Linked DNA regions of Homo sapiens. The protein of the gene in region 7 purifies or fractionates together with the protein of the main gene of each other region. This does not show direct contact. Each region holds a gene or a part of one and is shown on either strand. Other genes may lie near its edges. The genes, in order: GRHL1, LRP4, ZMYM6, SORL1, CLTCL1, PABPC5 and ZSCAN21.

Evidence for each region.
Region 1: the proteins of ZSCAN21 (region 7) and GRHL1 purify together in Homo sapiens (co-immunoprecipitation; one large-scale study listed by IntAct). This does not show direct contact.
Region 2: the proteins of ZSCAN21 (region 7) and LRP4 purify together in Homo sapiens (co-immunoprecipitation; 2 studies listed by BioGRID and IntAct, with this or other methods). This does not show direct contact.
Region 3: the proteins of ZSCAN21 (region 7) and ZMYM6 purify together in Homo sapiens (affinity purification with mass spectrometry; one large-scale study listed by BioGRID and IntAct). This does not show direct contact.
Region 4: the proteins of ZSCAN21 (region 7) and SORL1 purify together in Homo sapiens (affinity purification with mass spectrometry; one large-scale study listed by BioGRID and IntAct). This does not show direct contact.
Region 5: the proteins of ZSCAN21 (region 7) and CLTCL1 purify together in Homo sapiens (affinity purification with mass spectrometry; one large-scale study listed by BioGRID and IntAct). This does not show direct contact.
Region 6: the proteins of ZSCAN21 (region 7) and PABPC5 purify together in Homo sapiens (affinity purification with mass spectrometry; one large-scale study listed by BioGRID and IntAct). This does not show direct contact.

The regions. Positions count from the first base shown.
Region 1 is NC_000002.12:9,996,693-9,999,734, forward strand, and holds part of GRHL1 (grainyhead-like protein 1 homolog), read left to right. Parts: intron 1-2,272; coding exon 2,273-2,337; intron 2,338-3,042. UniProt on the Homo sapiens protein: Transcription factor involved in epithelial development. Binds directly to the consensus DNA sequence 5'-AACCGGTT-3'.
Region 2 is NC_000011.10:46,912,051-46,915,550, forward strand, and holds part of LRP4 (low-density lipoprotein receptor-related protein 4 precursor), read right to left. Parts: intron 1-3,500. UniProt on the Homo sapiens protein: Mediates SOST-dependent inhibition of bone formation. Functions as a specific facilitator of SOST-mediated inhibition of Wnt signaling.
Region 3 is NC_000001.11:35,018,446-35,021,945, forward strand, and holds part of ZMYM6 (zinc finger MYM-type protein 6), read right to left. Parts: intron 2,023-3,500; coding exon 1,938-2,022; intron 1,158-1,937; coding exon 908-1,157; intron 1-907. UniProt on the Homo sapiens protein: Plays a role in the regulation of cell morphology and cytoskeletal organization.
Region 4 is NC_000011.10:121,455,314-121,458,813, reverse strand, and holds part of SORL1 (sortilin-related receptor preproprotein), read right to left. Parts: intron 1-3,500. UniProt on the Homo sapiens protein: Sorting receptor that directs several proteins to their correct location within the cell. Along with AP-1 complex, involved Golgi apparatus - endosome sorting.
Region 5 is NC_000022.11:19,218,720-19,222,219, forward strand, and holds part of CLTCL1 (clathrin heavy chain 2), read right to left. Parts: intron 3,375-3,500; coding exon 3,232-3,374; intron 2,893-3,231; coding exon 2,658-2,892; intron 1,289-2,657; coding exon 1,166-1,288; intron 1-1,165. UniProt on the Homo sapiens protein: Clathrin is the major protein of the polyhedral coat of coated pits and vesicles. Two different adapter protein complexes link the clathrin lattice either to the plasma membrane or to the trans-Golgi network.
Region 6 is NC_000023.11:91,433,685-91,437,638, forward strand, and holds the start of PABPC5 (polyadenylate-binding protein 5), read left to right. Parts: upstream 1-1,154; 5' UTR 1,155-1,210; intron 1,211-1,218; exon of another isoform or gene 1,219-1,315; intron 1,316-1,750; 5' UTR 1,751-1,893; coding exon 1,894-3,042; 3' UTR 3,043-3,954. UniProt on the Homo sapiens protein: Binds the poly(A) tail of mRNA. May be involved in cytoplasmic regulatory processes of mRNA metabolism. Can probably bind to cytoplasmic RNA sequences other than poly(A) in vivo.
Region 7 is NC_000007.14:100,056,274-100,059,773, reverse strand, and holds part of ZSCAN21 (zinc finger and SCAN domain-containing protein 21), read right to left. Parts: intron 2,864-3,500; 5' UTR 2,768-2,863; coding exon 2,369-2,767; intron 2,077-2,368; coding exon 1,884-2,076; intron 1-1,883. UniProt on the Homo sapiens protein: Strong transcriptional activator. Plays an important role in spermatogenesis; essential for the progression of meiotic prophase I in spermatocytes.

The DNA.
Region 1 (3,042 bases), on a different chromosome or scaffold from region 7:
AGAAGCTAACAAAAGTGATTTTTAATCAAGTACAATCTTAAAAACTTCATACATAAAAACAGTGGCTCCTCAGTCTACCTTTAAAACTCCCAATCCTAGGAAATTACTGAACTTGCATCAAGACCTCACTACAGCCTATTGCAGAGAAAGTAGACGTGTAACCAGTGATGGCCGTAAGTCCATCTTACGAGGATCTCAGCACGAGGCTGGAATAAACTGACCCCATGCTCCCTGTGGGGATATCAGTAAGAGAGGAAACATGGAAGGCTGCTGTGTTAATTTCCCGTTCCAGCTGTGCACTGGAAAAACGCATGTCATCAGCACTGAGTGCAGATATTTACCAGCCTGTCTCCTAGAGACCGTAGAGATCTTTAAGCTCAAAGTGTGTCCATAATTGGGCTAAAAGCATCTCCCCCAGCTCCCTCTGATGACTGTAGTGTGTTGAATTCATTTAACACATCTTGATAAAGGGCTTGCTTCATGCCAGGCACTGTGGCGGGCACTGGAGTTATGCGCGTCAGTGACACAGTGCTGAATGGAGTTTATTTTGTAGTTAGGAAGACACAGACACCAAAATAAGCAAAGAAGTTGAGGTCATTTTTCAGGTACTGATGAGTGCCATGAAGATTAATAAAGCAGGGAGATGGGGCGTGGGTTTGGGGAGCTGCTGTGCGGTCTCTCAGCCAGGCGCCCCAAGTCCACGGGTGTCACTCAGTGCATCCCTGCCTGCCCACAGCACAGGCAGCGCCGTTCCCACTGTCACTTCCTGCCTCCTAGGATGTCCCCTGGGTTTCTCTTTTCTTGCCTTTTGATGACCCTTCATCATGTCTTAAGAATCATGCAAACTGGCCAGGTGCGGTGGCTCACACCTGTAATCCCAGCACTTTGGGAGGCAGAGGCAGGAGGATCACCTGAGGTCAGGAGTTCGAGACCAGCCTGGCCAACATGGAGAAACCCTGTCTCTACTAAAAATACAAAAAATTAGCCAGGCTTGGTGGCAGGCGCCTGTAATCCCAGCTACTCGGGAGGCTGAGGCAGGAGAATCACTTGAACCAGGGAGGTGGAGGTTGTAGTGAGCTGAGATCCCGCCACTGTACTCCAGCCTGGCATAGCAAGACTCCGTCTCAAAAAAAAAAAAACAACAAAAAACAAACAAACAAAAAACATGCAAATTCTGATTACAGGGAAAGAGGAGAGTAAAGAGGATGCAGAATTACTGGGCCAGCATAACTGTTCATGGCTCACGAGGAACTCATGACAGGTCTTACATGTCAGAACACAAAGTATTATCATCCACTCGTACAGAAAAGAAAAAGGGTTTGTGTGGTGAGAACTTGGAGCTGGGGTCTGGTCTGAAACACGTGTTTGGAAGGTTGGCAGGATCTGCACGTTTGCCACCTGAGGCTCTGTTTCTCAGTGCCACCTTGAGCTTTGCTCTGTGGCTTGAGGTGAAGCTGGTGATGCCAGCCTGAGGATGGTCTGGATGACAAGTGTAACGTTTGATCTAGAGTGAATCAGCTGTTTGTCCTTGGAGCAATTCACCCATTCTCTTTAAAAATATTAAAAATAGCCTCTATGTCCCGAAAGGAAGACAGCCACAGCTCCCCAGAAGCTCATTACAGTGAGGGGCAGCCGGGCTGAGGAGAGCTGGAGGCCCCCAGCACACGAGCTGGGGCTTTTCCATGTCTTTGTGTCTGCGTTTTTGAAAAACAAAAAGTCGAGTGACTATGCATGTGTGTGTGTGTGTGTGTGTGTGTATATATATACATATATATACGTATATATATACATATATATACGTATATATACATATATATACGTATATATATACATATATATACGTATATATACATATGTATATATGTGTGTACATGTATATATATACATATGTACATATATATGTACACATATATATATACATATATATGTACACATATACATATATATGTACACATATACATATACATATATATGTACACATATATATACATATATATGTACACACATATATATACATATATATGTACACACATATATACGTATATATGTACACACATATATACGTATATATATGTACACACATATATACGTATATATATGTACACACATATATATACGTATATATATGTACACATATATATATACGTATATATATGTACACATATATATACGTATATATATGTACACATATATATACATATATATATATTTGTTGTTTGGTTTCTAAAGCCTTGATACAGGGTTTTGTAATTATTTTTCTTTCCTCTTTTAGATCTCAGACAAATACGATGTTCCCCATGACAAGATTGGGAAAATATTCAAGAAGTGTAAAAAGGGGTAAGCAGCCACTGCGTCCTGTGTACCTCGGAAAGTGCTGATGCCCCCCGCAGTGCTAGTGTGACGCACCCCCCAGTGCTGTTGACACCCCCCAGCACCATGTAACACACCGTGCATGCTAGTGACACCCTCCTGTGCCAGTGACACACACCCTGTGCCAGTGTGACACGTGTGCATCGTGCCCAGTCCAGAAGCAGCCAAAGAAACCTGGGTGCTGGAATGTGGCTTTTCTAAATTATATACGAAATTACTTAGATAAAATTGATCTGCCTTGAGGAGATCTTTGTGTATTGTTTCTCCAAGTCACCTTCTTTGCCCTCCACATGCCTGGCAGCAGTGCCATGGCTCCACACTCCAGGGTGTGTGGCCAGCGCCACTGAGGATGGCCAGGGCAGCACCTCCGTGTGTCGAGCCCGTTGGAGCCGGGCACTGGGTTGGGCACGTCCCACGGTGCTGCGCTTGGTCTTCACGTCTTCTTTCTGAGCTGGTCTCAGGGCTTGTTTATATTTATAGACAGGCGGCTGAGGCTCAGAGTTCAAGAGGCTTTTCGGGGCCATGGTTGGTATTCCCTGCCTCTGCAGCCCATGCCCTGCTCTACCCTCCTGCTCAGGATCCTATTTCCAAGTTATGTCACGTTGCTGCTTTGTCTAGAAATTAGTATTTTTAGTTCTTTTTTGTCTGTCTATGATGTTTGGCATGGATAAG
Region 2 (3,500 bases), on a different chromosome or scaffold from region 7:
ACCATGTTGGCCAGGTTGGTCTCGAACTCCTGACGTCAAGTGATCCACCCACCCCAGCCTCCCAAAGTGCTGGGATTACAGGCGTTAGCCATCGCACCTGGCCAATGTAAGACGGGAATCTAATGTTACCTACCTCATAAGGATATTGTGAGGAATAAATATGATATCATATACTAAATGCTTATCACAGTACCAGGGACACAGCAAAGCTCTCAAAAATGCTAACTGCTCCAGAAATACATTTGGATTTTTTAAACCACATATCCCAATTTGTAAATCCACATATCCCACAATTTGCAAAAATTGTCATTGGAGGAGATCATTCCTAGAAGAGCAGAAATTCTCATTTGGGGAAGATACATTGTAGAGTTGTTGGCTTTTATTGGCTCTGGGAGCCTGTAGTTGAAACTTATTGTTTAAACTGCCCGTGGAAGGAGGGTGGAAAACCTGGGGCTCCCCTTTCCTATTTGCTAGGCTTGTGGATGCCATAACCTGGCCTCTCCACTTGGTTAGAAGGAGGCTACAGTCAACTCAACAGAGAAGCTGTCTCTTGTCCTCATCCATGCCAGCGCGTGGTTGCAGGCCACTACCCCTCCCCACCTCCCCCAAGGCGTGACAGGAAGTGGAGCTGCCGAGCTTGGAGAGATCCCTGGAGGCACTTACAACCTTGCAGCTTCTTTATTTCACATGCTAATCAGGTGTCTCTCTGGATACCCTTCTCTGTACCTGCTCTGCCCTACACCCAGACAGAGGGAGGGTCCCTCTCCCGCAAAAAGGCACTGCCTGGAGCCAGGAGCTTCCCGGCTCCAGAAAACCTCCGGTGATAAATTATGCAGCAGCACCTCTGTGTCACTGCCTCTCAGCTAGATGGGAGGTTTGCTCCCAGTCTTTTGTTTCCGGCTCTGCTTGCCGCTCTGATCCTCAGCTGTGCATAGAGGTGAGGGGGAGCTCCCATAGGCCAAGTCAGGGCTTGCAGCAAGTCCCAGCCAGGCTATCCCCAGTTGGGTCCCAGACAGCGCCCCTCCCCTCATTCGAACCTGAATGATGGGGGAGTCCTATTCCGCATGGGGAAACAGGGTGTCAGGGAGCGCTAACAGCCAGTCCGCTCATCTGTGAGCAAGAATGGGAATGCCTACGAGCAGTGAAAGAATGAAGTCTGCTTGGATGGGCGTAAGAGGCGCCCAAGGGCACCTAGGATGTTTGCTTCTTGCTAAATCAAAAACGCACAACAGAAAATGGAGGCAGACAACCGTCAGGAAGCTAGAGAATTGGCTCTTTTTAACAGCTGCTCTTGGTTACGGTCAACTTTCCGCAGCTCCCAAAAATCACATCACTGGCACCAACTTAAAAAGAAGAAACAAAAGAGACAACAGGGGTCAAACTTTGAGGTGGAGGAACTAGGGGTTGGGGGCTATTCGGGGCTGGAGACCCACATCAATTAGGCCTGCAAGCTGACAGGCTTCCTGATTGAAAATGGTAGCTGCGAAGGCTCCACAACAGCCCAGCTCCCAAATTGGGGCAATTACTACCTTATGAGCTCTGGAGCCTGACTCCTTTCTCAGGCCAATGGGAGGGAGGGCTTGGAATTCTAAACTGTTCCAGCTACAAGAGTCCCTGGCCAGCCCCTCTCACCCCATGTCACAGGAATCTTAGCAGGAGAAGTTGCTAGGCTGCATCCCTGACCACTTAAGAAGGGAAACTCTCAGAGGAAAAGCTCCATTTCCCCAGACCTCTCTCAAGAGAACTAAGGCGACATGAGTTCCCCTAGACTGATGTTATAGCTTAGCAGACTTCTTTTCTAGGAGTGGGCACAAGTGGGAACTATGCTTCGGTTCTATCACGTTTTCAAGGGGAGAAAGAAGGGGCAGATCTTTAAAAGAGACAAGCAAAAGACCAGCTGCAATGAATGAAGGACCAAGTCTCAATTTTAGCACAGAACACGGTAGCATAATTATTTACCTGGCTCCCATGTTCTAAAGCCAAGAATCATCTCGGATCCACTTAGGTGACTTTGCTTACAGCTAACTTTTATCAAGCTCTACAGTAACACAGTAGTTGCCAAGCTCTGTGCTGCATAGTTTGAACATGCTATTATCTCAGGTAAATTTTATGATATTCCTATGTGATAATCTATTACTACTTCCCTTCCCCTACCCTACCCGCCTTTGCAGGTAACAACCCTGAGGTTCAGGGAGATTTTGCACAGGGTCACCAAGAATTGCCAGAGCCAAGATTCAAACCCAGGTCTGTGGGTGCTTCTTAATTGCTGAGCTTCGTATACAGTGATTATATTAATGCTTGACATATGTGTGTTTGCTGAATGAATGAACAAGTGAATGGGTGTGGAGCCTAGTTTGAGGAATGCTCCCGATTGTACGAGGAACTCATTCCTGCCAGCTCTAAGCTGGAGTGAGAGTGACAAGCCCATGCAGTCATCAGAACTATTTATAAGGTCAAACTCAGGCTCTGCCAGCTAACCAGTCAGCACTGAGTCTTCCCTGGGACACTGAATCCTCACAGGCTGAGGAGGGGAGGAGGGCTTCCGCTGCTGAAGATGAGATGGCAGTCCAGACACAGTCTGGGGCCCAGATGCCCCATGTCCAGGCAACTGTGACAAAACTCGTGGCTAAGCTGCATCAAGGAATGTAGAGAGACCATGGCTGGAACAGGCTAACAGACCTAGTCAACCAAGGGCACAGACTGTCTCGTAATCTTACCCAATCATAAAAAAGACAAGATTACTTCTTAAAGTAGTCCCTGAAATTCTGTTCCTATTCAGGAACCCCCAGTATTTTTTTTTTCTTTAAAGGGGCAGCAACATAAACAATTTCTCCTATTTTCCTTCTAACAGTTAAGACTGGCAGTTAATCGGTAGAAAGAGTGAGCAAAGAGCTATAAAACACCGTGTCCTCTGTGACCTCCTGTGTTCTTTGCTGGCCCAGAAGATGGACATACCCAACGTGCTCTGTATCAGACATGGCCAGACTTGGTTCCCTTGCACCTGTCATTCTTAATACCACGTGCCAGTCCAAAAGATGTTATCTGATATTCATCAGGGTACAGAAGAGGAAATCCAAAATCAGTGACAAGCCAAGTATGTTTCACAAGCCCAACAGATCAGGGACAAGGTCACTCAAGCACCATGACAACCCTGGTCACGACAACAGCGAGATGGAAAGGAGACCAGTCTCAGCTCAATTGCTCTGCACTTATTTTCAGATACAACCTTCTATCTACCCAAGCACGCCTAGGCAGAAGTTTTAACATTTCCCTTACCTGGATGAGACCTCTAGAACAAACACACTTTCCACTCTTCCAATGGTTGTCATCCATGCCCTTACTTCAAACTTCAGGATGAAAATCACTCAGGGCTATTACCAGCCATCAAGTTTCCTTCCAAAATCTTTAAGGTTGGAGAGTTATGTGGGCTGAGTCCAAACCAATAGGCTCTAGGAAAAGCCCCAAGGACTAGCAGCATCCAAATAAGCACCTTAAACTTT
Region 3 (3,500 bases), on a different chromosome or scaffold from region 7:
GATATGTTAAGTATACATAGTAATATGTATTATATACACATATATTTATTATATTTATTTATGTTAATTATAAATAATCGCACGATATAATTTTTATTATTAATAATAACAGGATTCCATTTTTTAAGTACTTGCTATGTGCTAGGCCATTTGCTAACACTGTCTCATTAAAGTCCTAGGAAGCAACTATTATTTACTGATGAGAAATGGAGGCTTAGAAAGTTAAACATCTAGCCCGAAGTCACAGAGATAAATGACAGAGCCACAATTTAAAAGCAAGCTCTTACTGTTTTTTGCCTGTAGTGACTATTAACAACACACTGTATTCCTCAAATTACACTACCACAGAAATAGGCAAAATATGCCAAATCCTTCAAATGTACTAAGTCAGGGAAAGATTTATGTGACTTTGTTGCTGTTTTTTCCTCTCTCTGCATCTAAGCATTATTGTAAAGCAACAATGACCCCACAAGGACATTAGAAATAAACACATTTTTGCGACCATGTAGAGTTTTTACTTTTTAAAGAATTAAATAGCTTTTGTATACTATTAAAAGAGTGATATTATTTTATGCTATACCCAATAGCTTTCAAGATAACTGTTAAATAAATTTAAATGGTGGGTGTCTACAATTACAGGATAGTCCTGCAATTCCCACATGTCATTTGTTATTTCTTTCCATAGTAAAATTTAAAGTGATAGAAAACTGGTTTAGGCAATATTCTAACACCAAGTCACTTATTTAATGTTGCAAAACTTTAAAATTGGTGAATTCTTCCATTAACTAAAAAGTTATTTCTACAGATACATGCTGAAGAGATTTAAAGTATCAACAGTATGTTTGAACTAAACAATATACACACTAAAAAAAAGGTAAAGTAAAAAGGGATGTTAAGAATTTTATACTTCGAGCAGTTTGTGCAGGTTTTCTTGGGAGGAGGTGGCAGGCAGGCAGGTGAAGAATGTCTGGTGATGCATCGTGTGGAGCAGAAGAGCTGAGTAGATCCTGTCTTATGATATGCAGTTTGGCCCTTATAAAGCATTTTTTTACAACCAGAACAAAAAACCTTAATAGCAACAGCTGGAACTGAAGGAAGCAACACACTTGGGCCAGATGATGCAAAAGAAAGCTGAAAGCCTGGGTTCAACTGCTGGGCTATCAAAACAAAATAAAAAAAGTTTTAGTATCAATACTAATGCATATACAGTCTCAGTCTCTCTCTCTCTCTCTCTTTTTTCTTTTTCTGAGACACGGTCTCACTGTCACCCAGGCTGGAGTGCAGTGGTGCAATCAAGGCTCACTGAAGCCTCAAACTCCCAGGATTAACCAGTCCTCCCGCCTCAGCCTCTTGAGTAGCTAGGACTACAGGCACATGCCACCACACCCAGCTAATTTTTTTTTAATTTTTAGCAAAGATAAGGTATGTTGCCCAGACTGGTCTCAAACACCTGAGCTCAAGCGATCCTCCTGCCTCAGCCTCCCAAGTTGCTGAGATTACAGGTGTTAGCCACTAAACCCAGCCCAGTCTCTCTTTTTCAGGACAAATTCCCAATCTTGAAATCCAGTTAATGAGGCAATAAGAGCTCTAAAACAGAGGTTTCAATTTTTTTTTAACCATTACTCAACGCAAGAAATACATTTAATATTATAACCCAGTTCTCACATACATATGTTTGTAAACGTGGGGATGTATGTACAATTTAATCACTGAAACAGAAGTTTTATGAAACAATATGTTTCCTTACTACACATATCATATTCTGATATAATCTTACTCTATTTTTTAAAACGCTGCTGAAAACCAGCTACTCACAGTTTGAAAAAACACAGCTCTAAAGAAAGAGAAAGACATACATGAAAAGATGCTTTCCCTCAATTTTAAAAGTCAGAATAAGCAAATTAATTGTAACTAACTTATACAGTTCCATTTCTTACCAATAGGTCTCTCATTAACTGAAGACACACCACCAATTTTCAATTTACTTTCTTGAGTTTTTGGCTGTTGGACACATCCATACTCCTTTAAAAAAAAAAAGAAAAGAGAAAAGAGCAATGAATACAATGTATGTAAGTAAACTAGAAATTCAAGCAAAAAAAAATTATTCTATCCTATTCATCTCCTTTTTTTTTTTTTTTTTTTTTTGAGATGGAGTCTCACTTGGGTGCCCAGGCTGAAGTGCAGTGGCGCGATCTCAGCTCGTTGCAACCTCTGCCTCCCAGGTTCAAGCGATTCTTCTGCCTCAGCCACCCGAGTAGCTGGGACTACAGGTATGTGCTACCACACCCAACTATTTTTTGTATTTTTAGTAGAGACAGGGTTTCACCACATTGGCCAGGCTGGTCTCGAACTCCTGACCTTGTGATCTACCCACCTCAGCCTCCCAAAGTGCTGGGATTACAGGCGTGAGCCACCACACCCGGCCCTATTCATCTCTTAAACAGTCTAATCATAAATACCTTCACAAGCACCTCAAAAGTCAAAATTTACAAGTTATTACACTAATCTTTACAAAGACAATCTTTCAGAATTAGAGAATCTTTTAAAATACTTTTATCTACTTTTCAAATGAAATTTTGATATATGGGAGTAATACATAGCTATTCCAAATGCTGAGCACTACCTATTTTTTAGGTAGTGTGTTTAAAAGGGGGTAATAAATGAAAAAAAAAATTTTTTTTTTTTTTTGACATGGAGTCTCATTCTGTCACCCAGGCTGGAGTTTCATTCTGTCACCCAGGCTGGAGTGCAATGGCGTGATCTTGGCTTACTGCAACCTCCAACACCCAGGTTCAAGCGATTCTCCTGCCTCAGCCTCCCAAGTAGCTGGGAATACAGGCTTGCGCTACCACACCCGGCGAATTTTTGTGTTTTTTTCCAGTAGAGAAGGGGTTTTGCTATGTTAGCCAGGCTGGTCTGGAACTCCTGACCTCAGGTGATCCGCCCACTTTGGCCTCCCAAAGTGCTGGGATTACAGGTGTGAGCCACTGCACCCGGCAAAAAGGAGCAATAAATGAAATTAAATCTGGCTGGGCGTGGTGGCTCACACCTATAGTCCCAGCTACCCAGGAGGCTGAGGCAGGAGAATCACTTGAACCCGGGAGGAGGAGGCTGCAGTAAGCCAAGATTGTGCCACTGCACTCCAGCCTGGGCAACAGAGCGAGCCTCTGCCTCAAAAAAAAAAAGAAAAAGAAAAAAAGAAAAGTTAAATCTGAATGATTTAGAGTTTGGATTTCAATCATTTTAGATTTACAAGCTGCCTTTTCTGTTAATGGCAGAAAAGATACAAGAGTGTCAATGCAATCTGCTCATTATACATAAAATCATCACAGACAAAATCCTATTTATTCTTACCACATTCTTTAAAACGTTTTAAAACAAAATGTAATCATGAAACATTTTTAAAATGTAAATGCCTATCTTTATTCTGAAATTGCAACCATCCTTTTTTTTAATGTTAAAATACCCTTACATATTTCAAAACAGGAAGTTTTTTAAAA
Region 4 (3,500 bases), on a different chromosome or scaffold from region 7:
ACTCAAATCTTGATCTTGCTCAGCAGCCCACCCTGCCTTTTCTGGATTTTAGCTTCATCAGCCACTTCAGCGCTTGAAGGCCGCCCATGCCACTTCTTCGAAGGCCCAGGGTTCACAGGTCGATAAGCCAATAAATTAGGTCGAAATTAACTGTGGCTCATTTTAAATTGAGGGAAATTGATTTTTGCATGTACGTGGCTAGACTGACTATACCATCTGCCAACAGTGTCTGGCATACCTAGAAAATGCATAGGAAAGTCCCATGCTCATCAACAGAGAATGCCTCACCCCCACAGCCCAGACCACCTCTGGAGAAATACTAATCCCTGAATATTCAAACCAAAAATGCAGTGAGCTCTCTTTTACTTTCCATCACATTTATTTAAATCCAAATAAATGGAGGAAAGGTCAATGTAATGCCCCCAGGTTTTAATACATTTTTATTCATTTAAAACATTTAATACATTTTTATCAACTCTCAATTATCTGCATCTGAATTATTGTCGCAAATTCTAAACTCCAAACTGCCTTTCCCTGAATACATTTAGGCCAGCCATTTCCCTTATCAATAGATCAAAGAATGCAAACTCATTTTAATATTCACCTGAGCAAAACTTAATTAGGAAGGTAAACGAATGCTTTAAAAAAAAGACTACATAAATACATAGCAAAAGCAAATCGATTATTTTTTGGATTACCTGCTCTCCAGATTATGATAAGACTGCCCCCTGTGTCCCTCCATTACAGTGGGTGGAACAAAGCTGGCTCCAACTATCTCTGCCCTGGGATTCAACAATGACACTATGAAGATGGCTGTCATCTCTAAGGAGGAACAGACCAAAATCTGACAATGAAATGTTCCTACAACATCCACCTTTTGCCTTGGGATGTTCGTTGCTATAAGGATCTGCCTCGTGGATCCCAAGTCTCAAAGCAATTTATTAAGCATACCATTAACTTCATTTTACAGAACATAGAGAAAACATTCTCAGACAGAACACAAATTAAAACCAAGATCCATGATCACTGTATTCTGATGCTCTTACAAGCCTGGACTCCACATCTCAAGGGAACTGTGCTCCAGCATCTCTCCAAGTTACAAGGGGGCTACATCAGGCTGCTCTCCTGCTCTGCAAGAACGCTTGAAGTGAAAGGAGAATGAGGTTTTTCTCACCTGGCCTGGAAAAAAAGTAATCATCTATTTTATATTATGATACTTCAGGTAATTTTCTAACAATTCACCATCATAATATCACAAATATAATTTAGAGCTAAAGTTAATCTCATTATTCAGGATACCAGGGACTACAGGTAACAGGAAGCCATTTATAATTCAAGTTTCCAATTTTATGTACATACATGTTGTACATGCATAGACTGTTTCTGGAAAGATATACAAAAATATTGATAACAACGGATGCCACCCGGAAAGGAGCTCTGGGTGAACAGGGGGCATGAGAGGGAAGGAAATTTGTTACCACATACGCTTTTGTACAAATTTTGTTTTGTAAACGTGCATTACCTAATCAGACAGCTTTTTATTTCATCCCTCCAAATTCCGCCTCCTTACTCTTCTCACCAACCCCTTTCCTCCATTCCTTCCCCCTCGCAAAGCCTCCACCTTCTGTGCCTCTAACCATGCAAGCTATTTATGAACTAAAAGCGGCCAGAGACTGGGCACAGAGCTCCCTAAGAAAAGACGCCAAGTGGAACCAGGAAGAGCTTTTCAAGGTCACGTCCCTTATTGAGCCAACCCAAGGCCCCGAGCAACTCTTCAGCTACATAAAAGCCAACCTGAAGCAGCACATTCTTTGCCTTCTCATCTTATTCTGGAAGCACACAGGTCAAACATCCTAACTTCAGAATCAACCAGCCAATTCTTTCCCAAGCAAGTGTATCATGGAAGAATCTACTCAAAAGAGATCTAAAGCTGAACGGTATTCCACCCCCAAAGGAGGCCTTTTGTCCCAGGGCCTTGTGCTGTAATAGACACTTTATTTTCAGTCTCAAATCAGGACACTGAATACTCCCTGGCTTCTAAAATGTAGGAATTATGAAGAGAGAGCTTGTTGGAAGGAAAATAAACCTGTAAATCCTGTTAGGCTTTGTGCTTTATTCCAAAGGATTTTTCCCCAAAACAATACCATTAGCATAAACCAGAATGATAGCCCTAAAAGGGAGGATTCTGTAAAATAGAATCCAAGCTCTTCATTGAAAATAACTCCCATATAGCACAGGCAAATCAGGGCTCCACTATCTGTAGGCCATGCCGCTTGCATCCTCACTACCGAATGAGCCATCTCATTTTCACTATCCATGTGTGGGTTCACTGTATTCCTCCTTACAAATACATTTTATATAATGTGAATGTGCTTCCTACCCTCTGGGCCTCTCTTCTTCCAGGTGTGTGGCTGGTCCACAAATACTCATTAAGGGCCTCCCAAGTGCCAGGGAAACACAAGAGAACTTGATCCATGCCCTCAAGGAGCAAACAGGAAGATGAGACAGTTGAGCAATTCTAACACAAGGCAGTAAGTGCTGCCTCCAAGCTCAGAAGAAACTCTTCCCACCATAGCCTGAGAATACCAAGAGGTATTCCTTGGATGTTAAAGAATGGAATAAGAGCTTCCCAGGCAAGGACAAGAGTTGGGGAAGATCATTTCAGGCAGAGGAAAAAGCAGGTATGATGGCGCAGACAGACAGAGCTTATGAGAAATCAGGAGGAAATTCAGTGTGGCATGAATTAGGGAATCCCTCTTCTTGGACCTGGCCTTTAAGAAGGGGCTCAACTTCTAAACTTTGCCTTTTTTTTTTTTTTTTTTAGATGGAGTCTCACTCTGTCCCCCAGGCTGGAGTGCAATGGCGCGATCTCGGCTCACTGCAACCTCCGCCTCCGGGGTTCAAGCGATTCTCCTGCCTCAGCCTCTTGAGTAGCCAGGACTACAGGCATCTGCCACCACGCCCAGTGAATTTTTGTAGTTTTAGTAGAGACGGGGTTTCCCCATGTGGACCAGGCTGGTTTCGAACTCCTGACCTCAAGTGATCCACCCGCCTCGGCCTCCCACAGTGCTGGGATTACAGGCGTGAGCCTTGAACATGGGCAGAAAAGTCCTGATATCTGCCAGCAAATTATTTTCACCCCTACAATCACATTTCAGTATCATAAATGTGCCTTTAAGTAATCATGGCAGAAGCCGGTCTCCCCACCTTAGAGAAACTGAGGAGGAAAATGGTCAAAATAACCAAGCCTAGTTTACCCAAGACATTAGCGAAGCAGAGGAAAAAGGACCGACATTGACTCCAGCACAGGGCTCTTTCTCAGATGCAAGTATTCCCCTAGAAAGCCTTCCCTTCTCTTCTCCCTGAAGGTGGTGGCCTTAACATCGCCTCTAGGCCTGCTTCCTTCAGGCAGCTTCTGCTTCCAGCCCTAACCTGTGCTGCCAGTGTCCTCTTAACCTCACTCAAAGGTCAGAGGGCAAGAAGCTGGACAGTGTCTGAGC
Region 5 (3,500 bases), on a different chromosome or scaffold from region 7:
ACTATCTGCAAATGTCTGTGAGGCTATAACTGGAGAGGAGGCTCTTCCACAGGGCTGTGGGAAGCCCTCCCAGAGGCCGAGGCAGACTCCCACCTGCCAGGCCATACCCAATAATGACCCCTGGCCCCAGCACTCTGCCCAGTCTCCAAGGAGGTGCTGGATAGTCACAGGGGCATAAAGAGCACCTCAACAAAGGGAAGTCAGCTGAGACAACCTTGAAAGCTACTTCACCTCTGTCCACGAGGGCTGAGCTGGGCCCAGCATGCAGGCATGACACCAGGTACTCTCTTCCTGGGCTGCATATCCCTGCTTTGGATCCAAGGGCCAACTCTATGCCCTTGGCCAGTTAACAGTTCCAAGTCAGCTTACCCTGGGGAATCAAGCTATTTTTAGGCAAGCTATTTCTGCAGGGGAGAAGGTTCGTAAGGACTAAGATGTTTTATTTATTTATTTATTTATTTATTTATTTATTTATTTAATTTTTTTGAGACAGAGTCTCACCCAGTTGCCCAGGCTGGAGTGCAGTGGCGTGCAGTCTCGGCTTTCTGCAACCTCCACCTCCTGGGTTCAAGCGATTCTCCTGCTTCAGCCTCCTGAGTAGCTGGGATTACAAGCATGCGCCACACAGTGTGTTTTCGTATTTTTAGTAGAGATGGGGTTTCACTATGTTGGCCAGGCTGGACTTGAACTCCTGACCTCAAGTCATCCACCCGCCTCGGCCTCCCAAAGTGCTAGGATTACAGGCGTGAGCCACCATGCCTGGCCTATTTATTTATTTTTTTGAGATGGAGTCTCTGTCTGTCGCCCAGGCTGGAGTGCAGTGGCACGATGTCGGCTCACTGCAACCTCCACCCCCTGGGTTCAAGCAATTCTCCTGCCTCAGCCTCCCAAGTAGCTGGGATTACAGGCGTGTGCCACCATGTGCGGCTAATTTTTGTATTTTTAGTGGAGATGGGGTTTCACCACGTTGGCCAGGCTGGTCTTGAATTCCTGAGACCTCAAGTGATCCACCCACCTCCGCCTCCCAAATTGCTGGCATTACAGGCGTGAGCCACTGCCCTCAGCCAAGATGTTTTAAATTAAAAATGAAACCAGTCACTTGAGCCACAATGATGATCGGACGGCAAAATGCAGGTGTGCAGACATACCCATCTCTGTGCCTCACCTGGTCAATTAGCTGTCTCCTGGATGGGTTGGTCTCCTCAAGGACGTGAGCCCAGAGCTCCGGATCCTTTCTGCATACCAGGTAGCGGGCCTCGCTTTTGAACAGAGAATTCTCATTGCACACCTGAAATGAGCACACTCATGTGTGTGACACAGCAGCCAACCAGCGGAAGCTGCTTGGGAGGACACACCCCAATTCGTTCCCTGTGTGCCTGATACTGGTTTGGTGGACAGTCAGGGCCCAGGCAAGACGCTATGCTTTGACATGGGATGAGCAGCATCCTACAGGGTTAACGATGGACTCAAACTACCTCAAAATGCCCTTTCCAAGTTTACAACAACTCCCAGGGATGTGCCACATATCTGGCCAGTAGGACTTCCTGCATTCAGGGACATGCTCTGTCTCCCATTCTGTCTGATACAGCCACTAGCCATGGGAGGCTACTGAGCCCTTGAAATGTGGTGCGTGACAGGAACTAAACTGGTAATTTTTAATTTAGTTAAATTTAAGTACTCATATGTAGCTAGCTTTAAACCATCTGTAAAATGTTATCAGAACAGCCTAGAACTGGTATAAAACAGCACAAACACTGCAATGTTTCAAGATCTAAAAACTGTAAACTGTGCTTTCACTGGTAGATCTGGAGACCTTTTTCTGAATGTTATAACAGATCTCCAAAACACCAACAGTCCACTGGAATGTTCTAGCGTGTGCAGCACTTGCTAAATCCTGGTGAGGATCAGATCTGTTGAGTGCCAGATGCCCGGCACAAGGCTGAGCGGCGTGCACACGTGCTTGCGGATGCAGCGCAGTCCGCCTGTGTATCACAGGAAAAGCCCAAGCAGGCTGGTGTGGCACCAACCTCACAGGTGCCCTATTCATGTCTGGATTTTTAGATCAAATGATTAGGTAGGAACAGTTCATACAATTCAACCTAAACATGTAATTATATGTGGATCCAAGCCTGGGCAGATGCAGGCAAAAGACCTGGGCAGATGTCTCAAGGAGAGGCCAGCAAGAGCTCATTGGTCAGGTGATGGGGAAGGGCTTGTGTAGAGGGTTACCCCAAAAAGGGGGCATGAAGTACAAGGGTACTCGGGACATGAGGCACCCAGGGAATTGCAGGCCTCTCCAGGTGGGGTGGCAAGATGGATGGCTGATCAAGTTCGGGAGTTGGGAAAGGTGGCAGTCCACAGAGGAGCTCACGAGTCAGGCCAAGGAGTTCAATTCTGCCCTCAAATTGCCAGGCAATAGTAAGGACTGTAAGCAGAGGGATGATAAGTCAGGTTCAGGACCAACTGGTCTACAGGTACAATGCATACAAATTGCATGAGCAAGTTCCCAAAAGCTGTGAGAATCACAAGGAAATAATCTCATGACCTGCCATCTCCAGGTGCACAGAAAGCCCTGATCAGCTCCCCACAGGCACACCTTTGAAAGCTTCCCTGGGAGCCCAGGGTTACATGGGCAGCTCAGCACATCTGCTACCCACCTTGATGAGCTCAAGGTCACACTGCCCCCGCTCATAGGCAACACAGGCCAGATGGGGGTCTCGCTTCTCACAGTAGCGGCCCACCACGCTGCTGTCATAGTAGGCATTCTCTCTCAGGAAGCACTCGGGGCTGTTGTTGCTGTCGATGTAGATTTTAGCCAGTGCATTGTGAGTGGCAGGCTCCTCACAGCCTTCCTGAATCTGGGACTCCAGCCAGGGAAGCAGCAGCTTGAGCCTTTGAAAGAAGGAAGGTGCTGTAAAGTCTCAAGGCTACCACTGGAAGTCTTGAGGGCAACTCCAGGGCTCTGACAGATGTTTCCTGAAACAAAAAATCTCAGAGTCCATTGACTTCAGGTTGCTCTAGGGACCAAGATGGACCTGGTTTCCAAACTGATTTCTACTGTTAGGTTTTCCCCCAAGGTCTTCACAGTACCAATAGCAAGTAACTCATTGCTACATCTAAGATGTGTACATGAACGACCAGCTATAGAGACAGTCCTGGAGAATTAGACAGAAACAACAACAGACACTAGAATCCAGGGGTAAGAGAAAACACCAAGTAAGGACACCTTACCTATTTCTTTTTTCTACTTCAGCCACCAACTCATCAGTAGAGAACTGTCCTCTCACTGCCATGATTAAGTGTTTAATCACTTCCTCAGAACAATCCACATCAAGCAGCCCTCCAATCACAGCTGGGGTCCGGCTAGGGTTGACCTAGGGTAGTCAAGGTCAAGTAACTTCAGTGTTGCAAACACAAGTTATTGTTAGAAGCCTCCTACGACGTGGACAGTTTGGGCAAAACCCTGAAAGGGCTCCTGTTTAGCACTGCGCTGTGTCCCA
Region 6 (3,954 bases), on a different chromosome or scaffold from region 7:
TTTCTGGAGGGGTAGGAATTGTGGAAGGAGCCTCTTGAAGTGTTGTTTGCGCATGCTAGATATCAGTGAATTTCTGAAAACACGGTCAAAATTTCTCTCCAAAAGGGTTTCTCAAATACTCTGAAGAGAGATATTGTTGAGAAACTGCTGAGTTGAGTCCAGTCTGATGGCACTGTTTCCTTCAAGGGTTTCAAGTTGACAACTCATGATGAAATTCATAATTGTGTAAAGTGCATATATCTTAACATGTTTATTTCATCTGTAAATATTAATTACATATTTTGTATTGATTCTGTGGCTTTTATCTCTTTAACTGAGATTTTGTAACTGTAATTCTCGCGGCAGCTCAACAGTTTCAACGTTTTGTGGCACTAAACACCATCAAAAGCCATTATATGGCTCTCCAATCATTAAAACCTTAGTATTATGGGATCAGAGAAAAGATCTCTTTGCCTACCACCTGAGGAAAATATTACCATTATGTTGGAGATTAATGAAGTAAGGCTAAAGGCCAAAGGCAACATGGTCCTGTGTTCTACTTGACCCTGTGATCCTTTAGCACTGGATTGGGAGGCCAGGACATTTGTAAACTTTGACTTTCCAATGCACTCAGGAAAGTATGCAACCTATCCTTTTCCCTAAGCTTAAATGATTTTGATAATTAGTTTTTTAAAACTTATTATTTTTGCCCAGGTCGTCATCTTCTTATGTGATTTTTAGATGTTCGGCTTAAATATAGTGTTTTAAATAATAAATAACATTTAAAATATAAGAAACATCTAAAAGCCATCTTAGATTTTTCTTTCTCTCCTTCTCTCTCTCTCTCTCATTCTCTCCCCTTCTCTCTCTCTCTCTCTCTCTCTCTCTCTCTCCCCCCTTCTCTCTCTCTCTTTTTTTTTAAATCTTGGTACAGAGGAAGCGGGAAGTTACTTAGCACGGTTCCGGGTTTCTCGCGCCCCGCCTGTCCCCCCTCCCTATCACTGCTACTGGCTCTTGGTCCCTCCGTTGGACTGTCCTGCGGAGAGAAACCCCAGCCCATCGGTCTGCGCTGGGACCGCCCGCCGCGCATCTGCCCTTCTTCGCTGACTCCGCCCCGCATCTGGCCAGACCCGCCTCGCGTCAGAGCTGACCCACTCACTGCGCGTTTGCCAGTCAGTCTCTCCGGACCTGCCTCGAGCCTCAGGCTGCTGAAATCACCGCGCCTCACTCGGTCCGTACCCAGTGGGCATCTTGGGTATCTGGGCGGTCTTCGATCCCCCGCGCGTGTGTCTGTCTGTCTGTCTCTGTGTCCTATCCGCTGCCTGCAGCCTGCCTGCCGGTCTTATCGCACCAAGTGTCTGGTGTACCCTTTCGCAGACGCTGAGTGCGGAGAGGCCTTAGCGAAAGGCTAGCCAGCCCGAGACTGGCCAGGCAGCCGGCGGAGGAATACGCGCTCGGTCCCTGCCCTTGTTGATATCATTTTAAACCAACAGGAGCTCTAGGCCTATATTTATGCAGAAAGCGGGTCGGGAGGCCTCTGTCTGCAATGCTAGTTGTGGGGAACCAGCCAGCTGCTTGGTGGCTTCTCACAATTTCACGGGGACAGGAAAATTACGTTTCTGGTACTGGCTTTTGAAACTGATTTTAAATCTGAACGGGTGACAATTTTAAGTCCCCGCAGGGAGAATAGATTCGTATTTGGGGCGCCTTTTTGTCTGATGTGTTTGTTCTGAGCCTGCTGACCAGCTGTTTCTGAACTTCATTTTCTCAGCCTCGACAGTGATTCTGAGTCTGCTTTTAGCTTCCTTTTGCCTGCCTTGGCTTTTTCTGTTCGTGAACAGCTGTTTGGCCCATAGCTTAGAGAAAGCAGCCTTTTTTCTCTTCAAAGAGAACCTCCTCCCAGTGCTCAGAGAGATGGGGAGCGGGGAGCCTAATCCTGCTGGCAAGAAAAAGAAGTATCTCAAGGCCGCTCTGTACGTGGGTGACTTGGACCCAGATGTCACCGAGGACATGCTCTATAAGAAGTTCAGGCCTGCTGGCCCTCTGCGATTCACCCGAATCTGCCGTGATCCGGTGACCCGCAGCCCCCTGGGCTATGGGTATGTTAACTTCCGCTTTCCCGCGGATGCAGAGTGGGCCTTGAACACCATGAATTTTGATTTGATTAATGGAAAACCATTCCGCCTTATGTGGTCTCAGCCAGATGACCGCTTAAGAAAGTCTGGAGTGGGAAATATATTCATCAAAAACCTGGACAAATCCATAGACAATAGGGCCCTGTTTTACTTATTTTCTGCTTTTGGGAACATTCTGTCCTGCAAAGTCGTATGCGATGACAACGGCTCTAAGGGTTATGCCTATGTTCACTTTGACAGCCTGGCCGCTGCCAATAGAGCCATCTGGCACATGAATGGAGTGCGGCTCAACAACCGCCAGGTGTATGTTGGCAGATTCAAATTCCCAGAAGAGCGGGCGGCTGAGGTCAGAACCAGGGATAGAGCAACTTTCACCAATGTTTTCGTTAAAAACATTGGAGACGACATAGATGACGAAAAACTGAAGGAACTTTTCTGTGAATATGGGCCAACTGAGAGTGTTAAAGTAATAAGAGATGCCAGTGGGAAATCTAAAGGCTTTGGATTTGTGAGATATGAGACACACGAGGCTGCCCAAAAGGCTGTGCTAGACTTGCATGGAAAGTCCATCGATGGAAAAGTCCTCTATGTAGGGCGAGCACAGAAGAAAATTGAACGCCTGGCTGAGTTGAGGCGGAGATTTGAACGGCTGAGGTTAAAAGAAAAAAGTCGGCCCCCAGGGGTGCCTATCTATATTAAGAACTTGGATGAGACAATCAATGATGAAAAACTGAAGGAGGAATTTTCTTCCTTTGGGTCAATTAGTCGGGCCAAAGTGATGATGGAAGTGGGGCAAGGCAAAGGATTTGGTGTGGTCTGCTTTTCCTCTTTTGAAGAGGCTACCAAAGCAGTGGATGAGATGAATGGCCGCATAGTGGGCTCCAAGCCCCTGCATGTCACCCTGGGCCAGGCCAGGCGCAGGTGCTGAGAATAAGAATGCTCAGTTTGTTTCAGCCTTAGTTGGTGCCTCCTTAGTTTGGGCTCCTTTGTGATAAGGGGTTATTTTATGCTAATTCACAAGTTTTTTTTTGAAGTGAATTCTTTTGAAAAAAAAATGCAAAACTAGAAAACTTTATTCATTTTAGAATAGAACATAATTTCTAACTGTAAAATTGTCATTTTGTACTTTTTTTGATGTAATATCCTTAGAAATCTGTAGAATAAAGTGTATTCCTCCACTTTTTTTTCCTGAACAGTCAAGGTGAGGCAATTGATTGAGTATATTTCCCTTCTTATTTCAGTAATACTCTATTTTTTTTCATGAAAATGTCAACATGGTTCTTCTGAATCTATCACAGTGAAAAGTTCTAACTTGTTTTTGAGAAGTCAGTACAGCAGGGGAAAACATATGTGATGCAATTAACATCTGCATAATTTCACTTAAAATTATTATGCAAAAATGAATGTTTTTTCAAAAAATGTGAAATGTATTTTATTTTCTTTATTTGTATTCTTGTTTCATTTTTTAATATGTTGTGAACATGCTACAGATTTGATAGTACTTTTGACTAAATGTTGGGAGTGGTCGTATTAACTTCTTGCCCAAAGAAGTAAGCATATTGGTGTTTTCTCAATTAGTCACTGAGAAAATTAACACTTTAGGCAGTGGCTATTTAAAGTAGGAATTGCATCTTAAAAACCTTTCCTAAGAGATTTGGTATGTGAGGATACTTTCAGTACCACTCCTACCATTCATTTTTCTAAATTCCTTAGTACATATACTTGGATCATGTTAAATTAACAAGAAAGATGAATAACTGCGCTGAATTGCCTTTACCTATAAATAATTTAATATTTTACCTTCGGGTTTTATCAACTGTCAATATAAAAGGCAGTACTC
Region 7 (3,500 bases):
AGCGCCACTGCACTCCAGCCTGGGCAACAAGACCGAAACTCTGTTTTTTTAAAAAGAGCTGGGCGTGGTGGTGTGCACCTGTAGTTCCAGCTACTCGGGAGGCTGAGGCAGGAGAATCTCTTGAACCTGGGAGGCAGAGGTTGCACTGAGCCGAGATTGCATAAATGCACTCCAGCCTAGCAACAGAGGGAGACTCCGTCTCAAAAAAAAAAAAAAAAAAAAGACTTTATGCAAAGCTTTCACAGCCAACTTCCCTTTCCTTAGGAGGGCCCAGCAGCTTTGTCTTCTGTCCCATCTGGGTACTAAAACCCAAGCCTGTTCCTGGCTCTGATAATCCTTCCACTCCACCCTCCTCTTTGTGTAATACTGCCAAGGGGCTACACCAAGAGATATGGAAAATAAAACTGACCAGATAGGTCTCCGGCTATTTTTATCTCTAATTACTGTGGCAACTCTGGGGAAACCCCAATTGCCTGGAGAGGTCTACTGTGTTCACCATAAACCATGAAGAATTTAGCTAACAGTTTAATTTTTTACTTTTCCTAGAAAATGTGATTTTTAACCGGCTCGAAACTCTGTTTCCATGATGGAGTTTCACGTTTCAGACACAGCAAGCATGGAGGGAGATTTCTGAGGGCCATGGACTCTTGTCATGAAATCACACCACACACATAAATAGTGGTCTACACCACCAACACGTAAGCAAAGTCCTGGTTTGAAACTATTAGGATTTGGAATAATATGCCATATTTTTGCAAACATATAATTAAACATTAACTCTGTTTCAAAGATTTAGTTCTAATCCTTCTGGTAAATGAAGGTACTTAAGAGTAGAACCCATAAAATAACAAAATAACATAGGGCCAGCTTGGGCAACATAGTGAGACCCTGTCTGTACAAAAAAATAAAGTTAGCCAGACATGGTGGTCCCAGCTACTTGGGAGGCTGAGGTGGGAGGATCATTTGAGCCCCAGAGATTGAGGCTGCAGTGAGCTATGATCACGCCACTGCCCTCCAGCCTGGATGACGGATGGAATCCCTGTCTCAGAAAAACACACAAAAACACCCCCACAGGGGATGACCATTTATGGCCTGAGATTATTCTATAAACCATAATATATGGAGATTTGAGCTCAGGAGTAGTCACCTAATACAGCTTTGACTTGTGAAAAATGCCCCACCTCTTTCCATAGCTTCAGAAAGGAGGTTGCCAATTATTTCCCATTTGCCCTTCTCAGATCCATTCTCTGACCCGCCCTGTGCCCCAGGAAGCTGACCCTAAGGGCTGCACTGTCTTGTCTTTCCTGCCCTCTGGCTGCCAACTGAGTTTGTCATTGGGGAACAAAAGCAGGAGATTTAAGGGCAGGAGGAGGGTGCAGTTGGGGTATTTATTCCGTTTTCTCCTCATCCCACAGCAGGGCCTACAGCCACAACTTCTATCAAGTGACCCCCTCCTCCATGACTATAGCTCTTACCTGATTCTGGTAAGAGGGTCCCCCTCTGTCCCTTTAGGCTCACAGGGAGTAACAGCTTTTCACTGTTGTCTGGTGCAACACTATTCCTTATTGGTTCATTTGAAGTCTCTACACCTCTGTTAACAGTTTCTTTTTTAAACTCATTTCAATTGACCCTTTAAAAAAAATTATTTGTAATACTCAGACTTCAAAGAGAAACTGATCCTTTAAGAGTGATCCATTCCCATGCTAGGGCCCAGGTTAAGACAGCCTTACTTGGGGGAGGAAAGGGGACTATTTCCACCCAGTCAGCCCAACTAATCAAGTCAATCTATGAAATCACCTCACAACCAAGAATTACTAATTATTCTGCTTCTCCAACCACAGGGGCCTGGGGCACTGAATAGGAGTCTAATGGGTGGTCCTCACCTCGGACCTTTCTTGGATCTTGAGCGAACTCCTGCTCCTCACCAGACTCTTGGATGTACAGGGGCCCCCAAGACTCGTATTTGTGACTGGTCTCCAAGGGCTGTGGCTGCATGCTGCTCGGGGATTCCTTTGCAGTTCCTGAGGAGGATATCTTCTCCCACACCGGTTTCTGTTCGTTTGGAGGAGTTGAGACCTAGAGACAATCAGGAATGGCTAGGTTTGTGCATGGCTCACTTTAAGACCAAGAATGAAAATCCCAGTAGAGCTACATAGAACCTCTAGGAAAGAGAAAAGGAAAACACCCATCCCATTCCATTCCCAAGGCTAAAAGTTAGTTTAGGATGATAGAGAAAAATAGGAGGAAACAAGGTCTAATTCAGCAGAAATTTCCATTCAGCAAATCTTAATGTATGGACAAACCCTTGTTCCTGCCTAGAATGTTACGCTCCCAATCTCCTAGAATAACAAAGGTCTCTCCTGCCTACCTGGTGTCCTGGCTCATCCAGTTCCCGCTCCAGATCTTCGAGGAGAGTGACAGCCTCTTCAGCGCTCTCCGGGCAATGCTCCTGCACCCAGGCCTGGAGCTCCTGGGGCAGGATGGTCAGGAACTGCTCCAGCACCAGTAGCTCCAGGATCTGCTCCTTGGTGTGGATCTCGGGCCTCAGCCACTCACAGCAGAGCACCCGGAGTTGGCTCAGGGCCTCTCGGGGTCCAGGGGTATCATGGTACCCAAACTGCCTGAAGCGCTGGCGGAACATCTCCAGGCTAGGAAGGTACTTGCCTTTCTCTTCTTTCTCCTCGACTTTTACCATCAGAGGCCCCACCTGCTCCTGTGGAGGCCTAGGGCCCAGAACTGGGGCCATGCCTAGTACCTTGGTCATCATGTAAACTCCAGAAACAGCCTCACCAAAGATGGGACTCTGTGGGGCAGGAATATTCGTTCCTTTGGGTTTCCAGTTCTTTAGGGCCACAAGTTAAACCTAAGAAAATATAGTTACCAAAAAATAATCAAACTGAAAAGTGTTTTTGGGTCTTTACAGCCATACCTTTAACACAAGAAATTGTGGAAATTATGTCCACCATAAAACTACCATACAAAAACAACTGCTCAAAATCTTTCTGGAATGAGCTGGGTACAGTGGCTCATGCCTATAATTCCAGCACTTTGGGAGGCTGAGACGGGTGGATCACATGAGGTCAGGAGTTTGAGACCAGCCTGGCCAACATGGTGAAACCCTGTCTCTACTAAAAATACAAAATTAGCCAGGCGTGGTGATGGATGCCTGTAATCCCAGCTACCTGGGAGGCTGAGGCAGGAGAATTGCTTGAACCCAGGAGGCAGAGGATACAATGAGCCAAGCCTGCGCCACTGCATTCCAGCCTGCGCAACAGAGCGAGATTCCATCTCTAAAAAAAAAAAAATCTTTCTGCAATCAGCTCAGGATATCCTACTTTGATTTCAGTGGTCTCCACTTTCCTAAAAAGTGCAATGTGGCATAATTTTAAAGTTAACTTTGCTCCAAAACTAGTTCAGAATCTCACCACTATAGATATTATAGTTTCTGAGATTTTATCAAGCTATCTACTGGCTAGATGCCATCTGTTTAAACCTAAGAC